3 linked regions of the Homo sapiens genome follow. The protein of the gene in region 2 interacts with the protein of the main gene of each other region in a biochemical or structural test. Each region holds a gene or a part of one and is shown on either strand. Other genes may lie near its edges.

Region 1 (4,981 bases), on a different chromosome or scaffold from region 2:
GTTTATAGTTGAATTATATATAATATATTTATAGCTCAGTTAAGTGATAAAGGTTACCTTAAATTTTTGGAGAAGTTGCTTTATTACTTCTTCAGTTCTCATGTTACTGTTTACTCTGACCTTAGTTTCTGATTCAAAGGCTGGAATGAAAATTGATGTCTAGAAAAAGAATTGTCACATAAGTCTTTAAAATTATATTATATTAAGGGTATTCAATATCTTGAACATAATCTTCTTATAGGGCAAAAAAAATCCAAGGTCATTAATTTAAAAAATTTGTTTTGTTTTTGTTTGTTTTTCTTTGTTGTTTTTGAATATTATGTGTTCTTTTAAGCAGCTTTATATTGTTTCTAGAGTAAATTAGGTAAAACACCATTTGAGGATGCTTATAACATTTTCACTGGACAATTACACCCCTCTTTAGTGCAGTTTAAGATTTCAAAATAAGTAAGAAAGAATGTCACCAGATGCATATTTAAAAACGGATAGAGATATTAAGTAAGGATTTATTTCCACATATTTTATTTATATGCACAATCTCCAAGTATTCCAAGGCTCTGTAGAAATGGGGTGGGTTCAGCAGATGTAGAGATGGGTGGGTTTTGGGGTGGCTCATTGGACTGTTAAAAAGATAAGTCCTATATTGAGAGATCAGTAAATTAACATCAAAGTATACAGACACAAACATTTATAACACCCACACATGTAACACGCACACACACACACACGGCATTTGTGTGAGTAAAAATGTGGATATGTAAATAAGTTTTCTGAGAAGATGTGTGGAGAGTGTCTAGGATAAACTTTTATAAGTATGAGAAAATTCAATATTTGTAGACATTTTAGAGCATTGATAAGTTATTCTGTGACATTTACGATTTCTATGGAGCCCTGAAAAACCACATGTTCATCCTGCGCTAAGGTGAATATGATATGTTGTACACGTGGTTTGATGTTGTTTATGTGAAGAAGCTTCATGCACTATGACAATAACATGGATTACCATTCAGGAGACCTAGATTTTAGTGCCCACTAAATGCCCACGAACTCCAACTTTGTCAACTCATTTAACATCTTTATTGACTCACTTAACATATATTTGATAAATGACTTCATTTATAAAATAAGATAGTAAGACTAATCTCTAAGAGCTCTTCTAAAATGTCAACATATAGTGAATTTGTTTTTCAGAGCAGTATTTAAATCTATAGTCTTTATATCAGTTGTGTTGGCCAAAACATATAATGAAACCTGCTATCATTTACTATCACATTGATAGAAATATACTACTGGTCAAGTTATATTCACCATAACTAATCTCCAGATATGACAATCTAAGCCTTTAATATGTGTGTTATTCATAGCCTAACAATATTGGCATTAACAAGGGGCTTCATAGTATAAAAACATATCTTACGACACACAGCAACTTAAGAAACATATCCACTAAAATTCCTAGATGTCCGTCATTGTATAATTGTTGATAGAATGCTTTGTTTTTTCTTTTTTGTTTGTATTGTTTTCTGCTAGTTATTAAATTGCAGTGAATGACATTTGTGTAAAATATCTATAGTCCCAGCTTGAGCTCATTCAATCAACAGCAACAACATAAGCTAATGTAGACCGAGTTCTTTTGTGCCAGGTACTATTCTTATGCTGAACTTACCTCATTTCATTCCATCCCATCAACAGCCTTGTAAAGTAAGAAGAATGAAACTTGCTCAGCAAGAATGTAAAACCAGGCTGTCAAGCTCCAGGGCCCAAGCATTTAACCACCATTCCGTGCTGCCAACCTAGTGTCAATTTCATTTCCAGCACAAGTGATCCAATCTGAAAGCCACTTGCTTGGAGCAATGTGGCTTTCCTTCTTCAACACAAATTACCCCACAAGATAATGACATACAACACAATTTCTGTGAAGAGGGAAACAGGACAATTGGTAGGTACCTCTCTGTGGGGGACTATCAATGCTACTTTATAGCTATGAGAATGATTCTGGAACCCTAAAATTCTGATATGAATAAATAATTGAGAAGAGAGATTTCTCCCCACCAGGCTCCAAAGACACACTATCGTTACCCCCCAAGGGTAGAAGAAGAAGAAATAAAGTAGAAATCCTTACAGGAAAAAGCCTACAAAGCAATGAGTTCCTATTTCTTATTAAAGGCCTCAGAAGATACCTGGCACAGTGTAAGTGCTAAGTATTTATGAGATGGAGCGATGAATGATTGCTAAAGTACATCACATGAAAAATATTTGAGTTCTGGAAAAAAATGATGATATATTTCCTACCTTCAGCAAAATGTAATGTCTTACAAGCACTATGGAAAGGCACATATAAATTTAACACATATTCAGTGAAAAAGCAGAATGTGAATTGTATCTAAACTACAACTACACTTATATAAAAACGGTATGTGTATAGGTAAAAGACCTGGAACATGGCAACATGAGAAGTTTGATTTATTGGAATAAATTGGCCTGTGGCTTTTTCCTTTTATTTAAATGTTCACGTTCAAATGTCCTTTGATCCAACCACTTTGTAGCACTTACATTATTCCAGTATTATTGTTGGTATGTTGGTTTCCCTGCTCAATCCCTGAGCTCCGTGCTGGCTGAGACATCGGCTGCCTCATCTGCATGTTTTTAATACTTGGCACAGTGATAGAGTTCACCCATCATGGTGGTTAAAAACTTGTGTTCTGGAGTCAGACAAAGCTGGGTTCAGGTTGAGAGTTACTACTTAAGAGTAGCATAATCTAAGACAAATTGCTTAATCTCCATAAGCCTCAATTAGCTTATATGTCAAGTAAAGAAAATAATGGTACCTATTTCATAGGATTGTTTTAGTGATTAATAAGATAATTCAGTAAAAATCTATTTAAAACACATTTACTTTAATATCTAGCACATAGAGAGTGCCCCCAAGATGTTAGACATGCTACTGTTATTATTATGACTTTAAATTGTGAATTGAATTGGGTGGTATTGTTAGTGAAACAGGGAACCTTATTTTATATTACATTAATGGAATTGTAACTCACTTACTTCATGGTTATAGAAGTGTCCATTAATAGAGGCTCTATTTTTCTGTCTTTCTTTTCTGTCCATCATCAGAGGCTTCATCCTTTTTCTCACCAGAGCTGCTTCACTCATGGTTCTATAGAGCACTGGGGAGTCTGGTTCATCCTTTGCATGTGGCTTCAGGGTGTTGCTGTGATAAGATAAATAGTCTGGGAAGAATAGATTATAAGCTCATATCATTCAGCTGCCTGTGTCCTAGCATCCTGAGTGGATTTGTGTATGCTTTCATTAATTTTAGGAATATTGCTATTTTCTGGCTGTGTAAAAGCATTATAGTCCACTGCTTAGCTGCATATTTACTTATTAAATGTTGCCTGAGACTGACTCAGCAAATTCTGCCAGTATCTCATATAAAATTCTTATGTCTCATTCTTATGTTTCATAAGAAATGATCACAATGATCATGTTTGGGGTTTGGGCATTCCTTTAATCTTAATTTATTGGGGAGTGCATTTTGTGGCATTTCAGAGTGTTAGAGCTGGAATAAACCTGATACTTTATCAGGTTTGATCTCTTACAGGTAAGAAAAAGTACAGTGAGTTGAAGTGGCTTTCCTATGGACATAGTACTCATAAATGATAGAATCAGGTCTGGATCCTTATTTTTTTATTTTTATTTTTATTTTATTATTATTATACTTTAAGTTTTAGGGTAATGTGCACAATGTGCAGGTTAGTTACATATGTATACATGTGCCATGCTGGTGTGCTGCACCCATTAACTCGTCATTTAGCATTAGGTATATCTCCTAATGCTATCCCTCCCCCCTCCCCCCACCCCATTATATGTTGGCCCAAGTTCTTTGGAGCTTTTCCTAAAAAATAAACACTGGGCCTTAGTTTTCCTATAAAACTACAGAAAGCTCTTTGAGAAGCTATTTATATGGTATGTGGAGCATTGAAAGATTTTGTTCCCATCTTTTATAAAAGCAAAAGGAATAGTATGCTTTGGACTAGTCCTACTATTTGTAATATATCACATTATGTTCTTTTTAGAACATTCCAGATGTATGATATGAATGACTTTTTCACTTAGTTGTCCACTATCCTATTATTTCTTCTCATTGAGTCATGTATATTTAACAATGATTCATAATTGATTAGTCAAAATTTGGTTACTGAATTATTACAATTTCTATAGCAGATTTTAGAGTATAAAATTATAGTGTAGCGTTGAACAACTCTAGTATCTATTGAGTAGGCAGAAGGTGTTTAAATGGAATTGAATTGAGCTACAATGTGTTACTAGCCTAAGATGCAGAAGATTCAAACCTGCCTTCTGCCCCCCTTTCTGCTTGTATACAATTGATAGTACCTTTTTCAATTTCCTCTCCTATGCATATTCATATGTAAGAATAAGACCATGTGGTGGCATTTGTGTTTTATTTTACTTTAGGATTTTAAAAAATTTTCTACTGTAATTAGAACATTATCAAATAGGCATGAGATATTTCTTCCTTCTCTAGCACTGCTGTTTAAATACAAATATATTTTTATGATGTCTTTGATGCCAAGATACTGGGATTTCCTTGGGTTTCATATATATTTCTAAAAGATAATTGGAAGGGCCGATATTTAACAAGATGTAAAGATCCCATGGCATAAAGAGAAAAGGGAACCCTGGAAGGAACATCATGTTTGTCACAGGATCTGGGTTCCTGTGGAATAGCAGACGAGGCAGAATTGAGAATGATTTGAAAAAAAAAAAAAGAGAACAAACATTGCAAGTTGCTGGTAGGCTTATGAAGTTAATGCTAGTGGGATACCTTTGTTCACACTGAACTGACTTCGTAAATCACAGCCCCATTTCAGGCACATGAACCCTGTCCACCACCCCTCATTCTAGCTTCAGTCATCAGCATCCACTACTCTTTGAATCTTATGTGTTTATGAGAATT
Region 2 (5,896 bases):
CCCCTCTGTGGGTGGTACACCTCGTACCATATGCTCCTCTGCTCTGAGAACCAGCCTGCTGCCCACTTGGTTGTTGAAGCCTCAGTGGATTTTTCAGCAGGATGGGGGTAACTACCTGCTTTGGGACACTCAACTTGGATGGAGGCAGGCGCTGAGTCCAGATGAGCAGGTGCCATCTCCTAGAGGCTCAGTTCTAGCTCTCTGCTGGTCTGGGGAGGACAGGCTGAGTGTGCAAGGACTGCCTGCTCCACCTGACTTGCTTCTCCCCATCACCTGGTTCTGAGCATAATTGCCACTCCTTCCAGAAAACCCTACTAACCCAGAAGGATAGTAATAAGTTACTATCCTTCCTCCACCCTGGGCTAGGCCAAGTGCCTCCTGTGTTCCCACAAGAGGCCTGAGAGAAGGAGGTTCTCCTATCGCCCCACAGGGAAGGTGGGCCTGAAGTTCCAGCTGGCCCTGTCCCATCCCACTCGGGGATGTGTGCCAGGGCACCTTGTGCTGGTCCTAGGGCCAACTGTGGTTTCCTCCTCCTCGATGGCTCCAGCTAGCTCCACCCCCTCCCCAACACCCCCACTCAGGCAGAGGGTGGGAGCAGCATGGGGACAATGGGCCCTGTGTCTGTGTTAGCAAGGACTCAGCCCTGCAGGGGTGGGGTGGGGGTGTTTTTGTCACCACCCATGGAGCCCATGACCTTTTAAGTACAAAAGTGGGGCAGCAGCTGAGGGGCTGCCCTGGTGCTTGTGGAAACTCCCTCCTTCTCCAGTCTGAGCCACTGGCAGCCTGGTCTTCAAGGGAGTCAATGAGAACAAGTGTGGGGGCAGGGGGAGCTGCTCTACAGTCGCCAGCCTCCCAGGCCCACCGGCCCTGAGCCTCTCCTGGAAGACTGAACCCCCTCCCCACCACGTCATCCTGGCACTGCTACCTCTGAGGGAGGCTGGGCCTCATGCATGAGCTTGAGGCCCACACCCTGCTGCTCCCCTCTGCCTGGCCTGTGGCAAACCTGGCTCATTTGTCTATGGCAACATGTACCCCTACCCCTAAGGTCTGGGGTCCATGGGGCCATCAGAGCAAGTTTCTGAGACACAGATGTGGCCATGAATCCCTGTAAGAACAGCTGAGGTCCAGGATAGAGAAGCCCAAGAGCCTTTCTGTGGCCCTGCTCCACCACCTCATCTCTCACCTCTGTCCTCTCACTCCTTCCATCTTGTCCTCCCTTCCCCTGGACCTTTCTTTTCTCTGAACTTGTGGTGCAAGACCTCACCTCTGGGCCACACTTCCTCTCCCTATACCCCTTTGCCTGCCTTACCATTCCTAGCCCTTCAGGTCTTGGCTTCAATACCCCTTCCTCCAGGAAGCACTCCTTGACTCCTTGTCTGAGTCATGTGACTACTCTGGGCTCCTTTGGCCCCTGGCTTCCCCTAGCCCAGAACTTCTAAGTGCCTTTCCCCTGCCAGAATGGGCACTGCCTGGAAGGTGGTAAGCATCTGGCTCCAGGGATGCCAGCCAGGCAGGGTAGGGAATAGAGCAAGATGGGATTGGGGTAGATAGTGAGGGAGAAGCTGGGGCACATCCTTCCCTCTGGTTCAGTGAAGCCTCTCCCTGCCTTGGCCCCTTTTCTTTCATGTTGAGAGGGTGGACAAAGGCAGGCCCAGGAGGCAATGGTCCCACATGCTGGGTCCCATGGTTCTGGCTCCATCACAGACCATCCCAGTCTCCTTGCCCAAACTCTGTGGCCCAGAGATGGCTCTGGATACCTCAGTCATCCCCACTTGGCTACTCCTTATGCCATGGCAAAACAAGGCCCTAGAATAGCCTGACCCCCTCACTCTTCTTGAGGACAGGACCAGAGATATGACTTCTATCACACACAGAAAGGTGACTGGGCAGACAGGCCTGCAGCCTAAGTTCTGCTAGAAGCACCACAGGATGGCCAGGAGAGAACTTCAGGCTTGGATAGGGCACTCAGAGGAGTGTCCCATAGCCTGAGGTCACTCCACAGCCTGAGACTGCCACCAATCTCCCCCGCTGCAAGCACAGTGACTTCTTTCTGGTCTGGCATCACTGAGCACCAGAGTGAACTCCAGCTGGCTGTGTGATAGCCGCAAACCAAGGCCTAGCCCAGATCCTGGACATCATAGGCACCTTGGTCCAGAATCCAGGATTGCCCGGAGTAGAGACAGAGCCCACACCAGGTGCTCATCATCTGAGGAACATGGGATGGGGTATGGATGTGGTCCAGAGAAAACTTCTGCTTCAGTCTCTGTCTTGGGTATCTGAGAGCCCCAGTGAGGACATTCAGTGCAGGTGAACCTGCATGCTGGCCCCTCTGCCCTGGGCTCACTCTGAGCCAGGCCAGGCCAGGCAGTGTCTGTACATACCTGGATCTCAGGATCGATGTGGATCCTGTGTGCCTGAGCCTTGCTGTCATCAGGGGCACTGGGCCAGCTCCTACCCTCAGGCCTGTGGCAGAAATTGTGATGGTCAGATATGTCTCCTACCACGCCCACCATGCCTGGGAGCCAGGATCAAGAGGGGCTGGGCTCTGGGCTGTGCCCTGCAGGTAGAAGAACACCACTCCAGTGCTTTCCCCTGTACCACAATGGTGACTGTTGTGGCAATGAGCCACAACTCTAGCTGCCATCCTCCTGGGGTAGGGCTATATGCTTCTGTCCCCATCGGCTGCCCAATCCCTCTCTAGTCTGGTTCCTGGAGAGGCTGCAGGAGAAGCCCTGTGTCTTCCCTAATCTTCCACCCTCTTCGTGGCCTACAGAAGCTCAGCTCAAAGAGGCCCAGCTTATAGCACTGCAAGCCAGGCCTCACACATTGACCAGCTAGAAGCCTATCCACGCATCCTCTGGGCATCTACAGCCTCTGGTGGGGTGTGGGGTCAGGCGTCCGTCGGCTCTGGGGTAGGTGGAATGGAGGCTCTGAGGGGTGTGTCTTTCCTCCTGCTGCTGCTGCCGGCAGAGTCATCACTGAGTCTGCCCAGCCCAGATGGGAAACAGGCCATTAGGAAATTCCTGCTTCGCCATAGAAACCAAAAGCCAAACACCACTCAGGAGGGAGAAAAACATCATAAACCTGCCATAAGCAGGGCAGGCAGGCCGAGAGGCTACGTGCCTAAGGCCCAGCCCTGTCACTCAGTAGCCCTGTGAGAAGGCAGGCCAGGAAGGGGCATGGACCCTGGACTGGCAGGTGGGTATGAGGTGAGGCTGGTTAGACCAAAGGGGAATAATGCCCTCCAACTCACCCCACGAAGCCTCCTGAGGCTTCTCAAGGTCTCATTACTGACCTAGCAGCTTGCCCCTGCCTCTTCTGCCCCCTTCAGTTGAGGGTTTTAATAATCTATCTATGCCTATGGTCCATACTCACTCTGCACTTCCTCGCCTCTGCCCATTCCTTAGTCCCTTGGAGGCTACCTCTCTACTCCAGGCCTTTGGTATTAGAGCTCTGCTGCCCCAGGGCAACACCAGCCCCATAGTCCCTGTCTCTAGCCCCCTCAACCAGGCTCCCAAGTGGGTACCCTAACTCACAGCTCTAACTGTGGCCTCTATCTACTCAGAACTCCTCTGGGATAAAGCTGGGACATCTTGTGTGGCTATTTGGCCTTCAACTTCCCTGAAGTTCTGCCCAGAAGAGCAGTACAAGCCTGACGTCTAAGGTCGAAGGGCACAAAGTACCCAGAGCCATTAATGTGGCCCAATGCATCAGATCAGAATGAAGGGCTTAATCATGTGTCAACCCCCATCCCAGGCTGGGCTCTTTAAACAAAATGACAGGCAAAGGGTAGGCTGTGCAAAGGTACCTTGGGCCACATGTGATGGACAACAGGGACTCTATCAGTGGCCTCAGTGTTGGAGTTGATGTCAGAAAGGTCCTGGACCTATAGAACATGCCCAGGAAGTGTGATTTTGCTTGGATTGTTGGATGCCTGGCTTTGGGCTCAAAGCAAAAGAAGCCCAGTGGGGAAGCTGGGCCTTTGATACACTTTTCATTCTGTGGGGGAGTTGGTGGGGGGATTAGAGCTCTCTGTACACAAGAGGGCAGATAGGGAAGCTGGTCTGGGGTAGAACCCTGGGAGTGAGAGCACAGGGTAGCTCACTCCAGCCAGCTCAACAGGCTGATTTACTGCAGAGCCCTTGCTGTGTGGGTGTGTGTGGTGGGGGCGGGGAGGAGTGTCGTTGGGGGCCAGGCATAGGTCCTGGCATAGCAGGCAAGATAGGGAGCAGAGTCAGAAAGCTTGCAGGTGGGCAAGTGTCCAGGAGAAGAAATGTTGGCTCAGAAAGTCAAGGTGGCCCTCATGTCTTGATCCCCCAGAGTCTGCATGTGTGAGGGGGCTGCAGGGCAGGACTCAGGTTTTCACTCTGACTGAGCAGGCCTGGTACATCATCACTCAATGTCCAGAGCGCAAGATGGTCCATATTTTTGGTTGAGGAAGTTATGGGCTCAAGAGATTAAATCACTTTCTGGAGCACAGCATAGTTATCTCTCCCTCTCTCTCTTTTATGGGTAAAATTATGAGCATAATTCTCAACCCAGCTCTGTAATAGTAGAGAATGTGCTCTCATCTGCTCCATGGCCAGTGACATTTTGGGGCTGAAATGCTCAGAGTGGAACAGGTCAGTGGACCTCTGGCTCCATCCATGCCTGGTTTGGAACAAAGGACTGGGGAAGGAAGGAAGGAAGGAAGGAAAGAAGGAGGGGGACCTCCACCCCACCACCCTCCGCTGACATCATACACTCTGAGAAGCTCCTGACTCAGGCCCCCTCTGAGGCACTCCTCCCCACTACTCCACTACCACTAGGGCTGCCCTTGTTCAGCCACACAGAGTCAAGGCTGGAGGTGAGTCAGGGGCCAGGATCCCAGCCAAGTGGGGAAGCTTCAGAGGTCACTCATGGGCAGAGCAATGCTGACATTTCCCCCATCCAGCCTGTATCTCAGTCTGGAGGAGGGTGATGAATGTGATCCGTTAATGGGAAAGGAAACCCCGGGCTCATAGAGGTCATCTGGGCACCTAAGGCTCCAGAGGCTGGATGAGGACCAGCTTTGCTGAACTCCAAAGATGGAGCATCCTCACCGTGTGCCAGGGCCAAGCACAAACAGGGCTGACCTCACAGGCCTCTCCACCATGTTTAAAGGCTCCAAGCCAGTGGCTTACCTCCCACCCTGCCAGCTCAGAGGCATGGTTAGCTGTGTTGTGGTTTGGGGAGGCTTTGCCCACGTACTTCCACAGGGGGTCATGGAAATCCCCTCAGCAGTGAACACGGCAGAGCTGATAAGTTATGCCCGACTTCTGTGGATCAAGGTGGGCAGGGGAGTGGGGAGATCCCACTCAGCCAGGCTTAGGCCAACTGCTTCTCAGAGCTGAGTAAAGACCCAGGACCTGAGCAAGGCTGGGTCCCCCCACCCCCACCCCCAGTGGACCTTCTATCCCAGGATCATTTATGGAGCACAGATGGGCTTGGTAACCCCCTGTCCTCCCCTTCTTGATTGGCTGCAAAGCATTACACAGTCCTTAGTGGGAACTTTTCCCAAATCCAGATTTAACCAGGGCAGAGGTGTGGGCCACGGTGGCGACAGCTGTGGCAGGGCAGCTGAGGGGCTGGTAGGAGTAGTCAGCAGCCAAGTTAAGGGTCTGTAGTCTTAGGAGAGAGCCCCAAAATCAAATTTTGCTACCCCACTCCCTCTCTGTGTGACTTTAAGCACCATCTAACCTTTCTGAGCCTCACTTGTCTCATCTGTGAAGTGGGGACTATAGTAGCCCTTTTTTAAGTTGGTAAATGAGGGTTAAATGAGGTGTTGCACAAGAAACTACTTTGAAATGGTCATCAAGCTGGTCACTCAGGGGAGGGGAAAGGAATGAAACAAATGCCCCAGAGGCTATTCAAGGTC
Region 3 (4,981 bases), on a different chromosome or scaffold from region 2:
ACAGCAGCTAATCAGTGAGGAGCCAGGATTCGAACGCAGGCATTTGGCTCCAGGGTCCTTGACTCTTCACCCCCGAGTGCTGGGTCACTCCTGGCAGGCCGTTTGTATAACATGTGGGTGTGAGTGCGCGCTGAAAGGGCCTCAGCACCCAAAGGGCAGGGGCGGGCAAAGCTGAGCTACCCACCCACCTTCTCCAGCTGCTCGATGCAGGGCGTGTGCACCACAATCTTGCAGGCTGCGCACTTTCTTCGAGACACTGACTTCTGCTGCAGGACAGGAAGAGAGGGCCCCTGAGGCACCAGGTAAGTCTATCTCGGAGGCTGCCTGCCCCAGCACAGCTGCCCTTTGTGTGCACTGGGAAGCCCCAGTCCTGGCATCCGGACAAAGCCCCTGCACCCCTCACCATCCTGGGGCGGCCCACAGCAGGGGTGCCAGGGAGCGGGCTCAATCCCACGTTCCCGGAAGGGCTGCGGCTACTGGCTCCACCAGCAGGGGGCGGCGTGCCCCTACGAGCACTCACCAGCATCCTGGCTACACAGTACTGCTCCCCAACGTAGCAGAAGTCCCCGGACACGTTGGTCTCGAACCAGATGTGCTCCCCATATGTCGCTGACTCCTAGCCACGGGATGGGCTTGCTCAGCACACGCTGGCCGCCCAGCCCTCCCTCCCATCAGCCCCCGCCCACCCGCCCTCTCCCAAGACAAACCCACTCCAGCGCCCCGATCGACCCTGCTCTGTTCCGTCTGCCCCACTGTCCCAACCCTTCCAGGCTTGGCTCTCCCAGCTGCCTTTAGTGCCTCCACCCGCCAGCTGCGCCTTGGCCAAGAGCCCAGAGGGTCTGGGACCCAGGGGTGTTCAGGCACTCACGCTCCAGTCCACTGTACTCCGGATCTGCCGCTCTGACTCGCTGCACGGGGCCCCAGGGGTGGGCGGAGGGGGGGCCAGGTGCTGGAGGCCCGACTTGGTGATGGCTTTCCTAGAGAGGAGAAGACAGCTGAGGAGGGGGCTGAGCACTTGCTGACCCTACTTCCTCCCACCTCCTGGGGCCTCTGCCCTTTCCGTGACCTCGGCAACAGGGAGGGCGGAGGAGCCTCCCAGCAGCCCCAGACACTAAGAGGCTCCCTGCAAGAGACATGGCCTTTTGGGGTACGCTGGCTTCAGGGTACTGCCCAGAGTGTTCCCAAGTGGGGAACCCTCAGCCAGGCAGAGCTTCAAGGCCCATGCCCAGGCCAGACCCACAGGAGGTCACACCACTCGCCCTGCTGGCCACAGCTATACCTACGCGAGCAGGGCGCTCCAGGCCTGGGGTCCGGCCGCCTTGCGCCGTAGGGCTACCTGGCGCCTGCGGGACAGTGGGCGCACACGGGTGGGCAGCATGGTGCCGGCGGTGGTGCCTGAGGCTCTTCGGCCCCCAGGGCCAGGGTGCTGGCCTGAGGGCCGCCGCTGGCTGAGGCGCCGATAGTAGCCGTGCAGGCCCCAGAGAGCGTGGTCATATACGGCATCCGCGGGGAGCAGGTGGGAGGAGGCTCGGCGCAGGTAGCGGGGTAGGGGCAACAGCGGCTGGGCGCCCCGAGGTGGGGGTGGCCCTGGTGTCTTGGTGCCTGGCTGGATGGCGCTCGATGCCTCGGCTACCACATCCTCCTGGACACCCTCCTCCTCATTCATGCCCACAAGCCCGGTCAACAGCAGGGGTGCACCCAGAAGCTGGGCCCCCACGGTGGTAGGCTGTGGAGTGAGCACCTTATCCACGATGAAGCGGGGGTTGCAGGAAGGGGGCACAGTGCTGGAGCGCCGGCGGCTGGAACCCTGGGCCCTCACCCCGCAACTCAGGAGGCAGCCCTGGAGCTGGGCGCTGGAGCGGCGCCGCTGTGCCAGTGAGGAGGAGGCCTGCCCAGCGGGGGAGCGACGCCGGGCCTTGCCTGTGGGCAGCCCCACGCTGCTGGGCCGCTGCTGCCCCTCTCCAGGGCCTGGCACCTTCCCCCGGAAATGTCTCCTAAAGAAAGTCTCCATGGCAGGCGGTTGGCTGTTGGGCACAGAGACCGGGAGCATCAGGAGCTGGATCAGGCCACGGTCTGTCCTGTGTCCGGGAGCCCATTCACAGCCTCTGCCCCATGAGAAGGGAAGCAACCAGGAGCCCATTCACAGCCTCTGCCCCATGAGAAGGGAAGCAACCCCTGAGGGAGGGAGGGGTCACTGCAGCCTCTGACCTCCATGTGAGGATCCCAGGGGTGCTCAGGGGAGCCCACGTTTACAGCTGTTGGGGCACTGATGCTCTCCCCCATTGCACCCTAGGGAGCCCTGGAGTCCCAGGGAGGTGGGTGCTTCAGGCTACCCCTTCTTCCCCCATCCAGGCACCAGAATCTACAGAGCTCTGGGCCTAAAGGCCTCCACCTGCCCTGCCGGAAGCTGATGGAAAAGAAAACAAAAAGAAAATGGGGAGTCGGTCTGCCTGGATGGACGGTGGGGCCCAGGGCAGGGCTTCCCACTTGCTGGGCCTTTGTTTTGCCACCAACATGGTGGGGGCAGGTTAGGTGTCCCCTCATGGGACATGGAGCAAACCAAGCTATAACAAAATGAGGCTCTCTGCAAAGGAACTTAATCCTGACAGGACCCCCAGAGTCTCTCAGCCCATAGCCTTGGGGTCAGGCTGAAGGTGACTCCTGGAAATAGAGAGGGTCTAATGTGTAGCTCAGGGGAGACCAGGTCTCAGGGAACTGGAGAGTCACTGTCTGGCTCTCCTGGGAGAGAGGCTGCTCAGTCTCCCTTCACACCCAGGGGGCCGTGACAATAGGCTTGGGCCAAAAGCAAAGCCTTCTGGATTCTGGGTGTGTGCGTGCCTGTATGTCTGAAGTGCTGATGGTAAGAACTTTCTGGTGCTCGACTGCTCTGTCTCACCTTTCTGAAGGGACAAAGTACGGATACCCCAGGGTGAAGCTGGGTGATGCCGGGAAACCCTTCTGACTCTGCTCCTGATGGAGCCTGTGACTGCACATTCTTCTGCGGCCCTGATGCTGGAAGCCCCCATACTCACAATTCCAAACGCTGCACAGCCCAGAGCTCCCTCCTGCAGGCAGGCAGGAGCTGTGGGCATCATCCTAGCTCCCACCTGGACCTGGCCTCCATGGACCCATCCTGAACTCATGCTTTGCTCCCTCTGCCAGCTCACCTCAGCCCTGCCTACCCTTCTTCACAGCCAGCATCGAGCTCCTGTGCCCTACCTCTCCTAACAGTGGGGGAAGGGCAGCCTGCCTGGCATGGATCAGGCTGGCGATGCCTCCAGGTACCTGAGGCCACCTGTGCCCCACAGCAGGTGATCTCCTGGGCCCTGGTCCTGGGGAGAGACTGGTGGGGGATGCATCCTAACCGCTGGCAGCCACAGAGGTCAAGGTCACAGCCCTGGGACAGTGCTGCCTGGGGCTGACAGAAGAAGCCCTGTGGTCCCCTGAAGGCTGGCATTAATTAGGCATGGTGGGTGATGCCCTGGACGCATGTTGGGCAGGAGGAAGGATGAAGGCAAAGATGAAGGGCTGGAGGAGTCAGGCCCAGGCCGCACGTCTAGCACCTTCTCCTTCCATACACTGCACTGATTTGCTACTGCCCTGCAGGTCTTGAGCAGCTTCAGGCCAGGTACAGGGGTGTTGGGGGAGAGATGGACAGGGTGGAGGTGCCTAGGGAAGCAGAGTTCTGCACAGCTCAGCTCTTGGTCTCTGCCTATTGGAGTTTCCAGCTGCCTCAGATGACAGGGAGGTCAGGGCAGTGCTCTTATGACCCCAAATAGTGCCCCACTCAAAGCAGACCACCTGGGCCGGAGGGAGCTGCAGGGGCAGGACAGCAGGCATGGGTGGAGAGCGCTGGGTCTCCCCCAAAATCACCAGTGTCACGGCTGACATTTACTGAGCCCCTATGTGTCAGGCACTGTGCTAAGCCCCTGACAAACACTTAGATCATTTCATAAACTGCAACCCCAAGGAATAGGTACTGCATCACACTGCATTCCTGATGAGGAAGTTGACGCAGAGGTGACCGCCTAGAGTCCACGGCAAGTCAGTGTGGAGTCAGTGCTGGAGTCCAAGTCTACCTAACGGCAAAGCCTGCGTCCCAGAAATGGGGTGGGTTGCAGGGTCCTTCCTCCTGGAACATGAGGCTGGGATGGGGTAGGAAAGGGAACCAGATAGGGAATAATAACGAACACCTGCTACGTGACAGGCCCTGGGCTAAGTACTTTATCATCTCGTGTAATCCTCACCACAGCCCTGTGAGGTAAGCAGGACCTGCAGCTCCATTCTAGAGATGGGGAAACTGAGGCTTCAAGAGGGCCAGTAACATGCCACAGTCCCACGGCCAGTCAGCGGCATTCGGGACCTGAACCCGGGTCTTCCCGACCTGGGGCCTGCTTTGTGTCAGGGGAAGAGGAGCCTGAAGGCCCAACTGCCCCCTGCCGTCAGGGCACCGGCCTGCCAGCCCTCCCCAGGGTGTCAGCTTTCCTGCCTGCCTGGTCAGGCCGCCCTGTGACAGCTGCCCAGCCTGGAGGAGATTAGTCACCCGGACACACCGCCTGATGCTACTGTCACCCAGAAAACAAAAGGCCACAGTCAGTGGGGGGAGGTGCCGCTGCACCCGTGGGCAGCGGTGAGGGCTGAGCCCAGCTTGCGGCCCCAGACCTGCACTGACAACAGGGGCCAGGACCCCCTCGAGAGACAAGGGCGGCTTACAGGAGCTCCTGTGGTGCCCGGCTCCACACACTGCCAGGCAGCCCAGGTCCACATCTGTCCAGGAGTCTCCTCGGCGGCCGATGATGCCGCCCCTCCCAGCAGAGTGGGGTGGGCAAGGCCGGCAGTGCTGTGTGACTGTGTGCAAGTTGGCCCCTCACGGGCCTCAGTTTCCCTGTGTGTCTGGGGAGGCTGTCAGAGTGGCTGAGCTGACAATTTGTCACAGGCTCTCCTGCTGGGCACCCATGCCTCCGTGCTCCCATGCCCCTCC

Evidence for each region. Proteins that work in one complex are often made in the same cells at the same time.
Region 1: the proteins of PDLIM4 (region 2) and RASSF6 interact in a test that uses a peptide from one of them, tested with the Homo sapiens proteins (one large-scale study listed by IntAct).
Region 3: the proteins of PDLIM4 (region 2) and DGKZ interact in a test that uses a peptide from one of them, tested with the Homo sapiens proteins (one large-scale study listed by IntAct).

Annotation. Positions count from the first base shown.
Region 1 is NC_000004.12:73,582,132-73,587,112, forward strand, and holds part of RASSF6 (ras association domain-containing protein 6), read right to left. Parts: intron 3,234-4,981; coding exon 3,049-3,233; intron 2,703-3,048; coding exon of another isoform or gene 2,688-2,702; exon of another isoform or gene 475-2,687; intron 160-474; coding exon 58-159; intron 1-57.
Region 2 is NC_000005.10:132,263,031-132,268,926, reverse strand, and holds part of PDLIM4 (PDZ and LIM domain protein 4), read right to left. Parts: intron 2,464-5,896; coding exon 2,382-2,463; intron 1-2,381.
Region 3 is NC_000011.10:46,363,287-46,368,267, reverse strand, and holds part of DGKZ (diacylglycerol kinase zeta), read right to left. Parts: intron 2,025-4,981; exon of another isoform or gene 2,012-2,024; coding exon of another isoform or gene 1,284-2,011; intron 978-1,283; coding exon 869-977; intron 617-868; coding exon 521-616; intron 267-520; coding exon of another isoform or gene 264-266; coding exon 189-263; intron 1-188. UniProt on the Homo sapiens protein: Diacylglycerol kinase that converts diacylglycerol/DAG into phosphatidic acid/phosphatidate/PA and regulates the respective levels of these two bioactive lipids.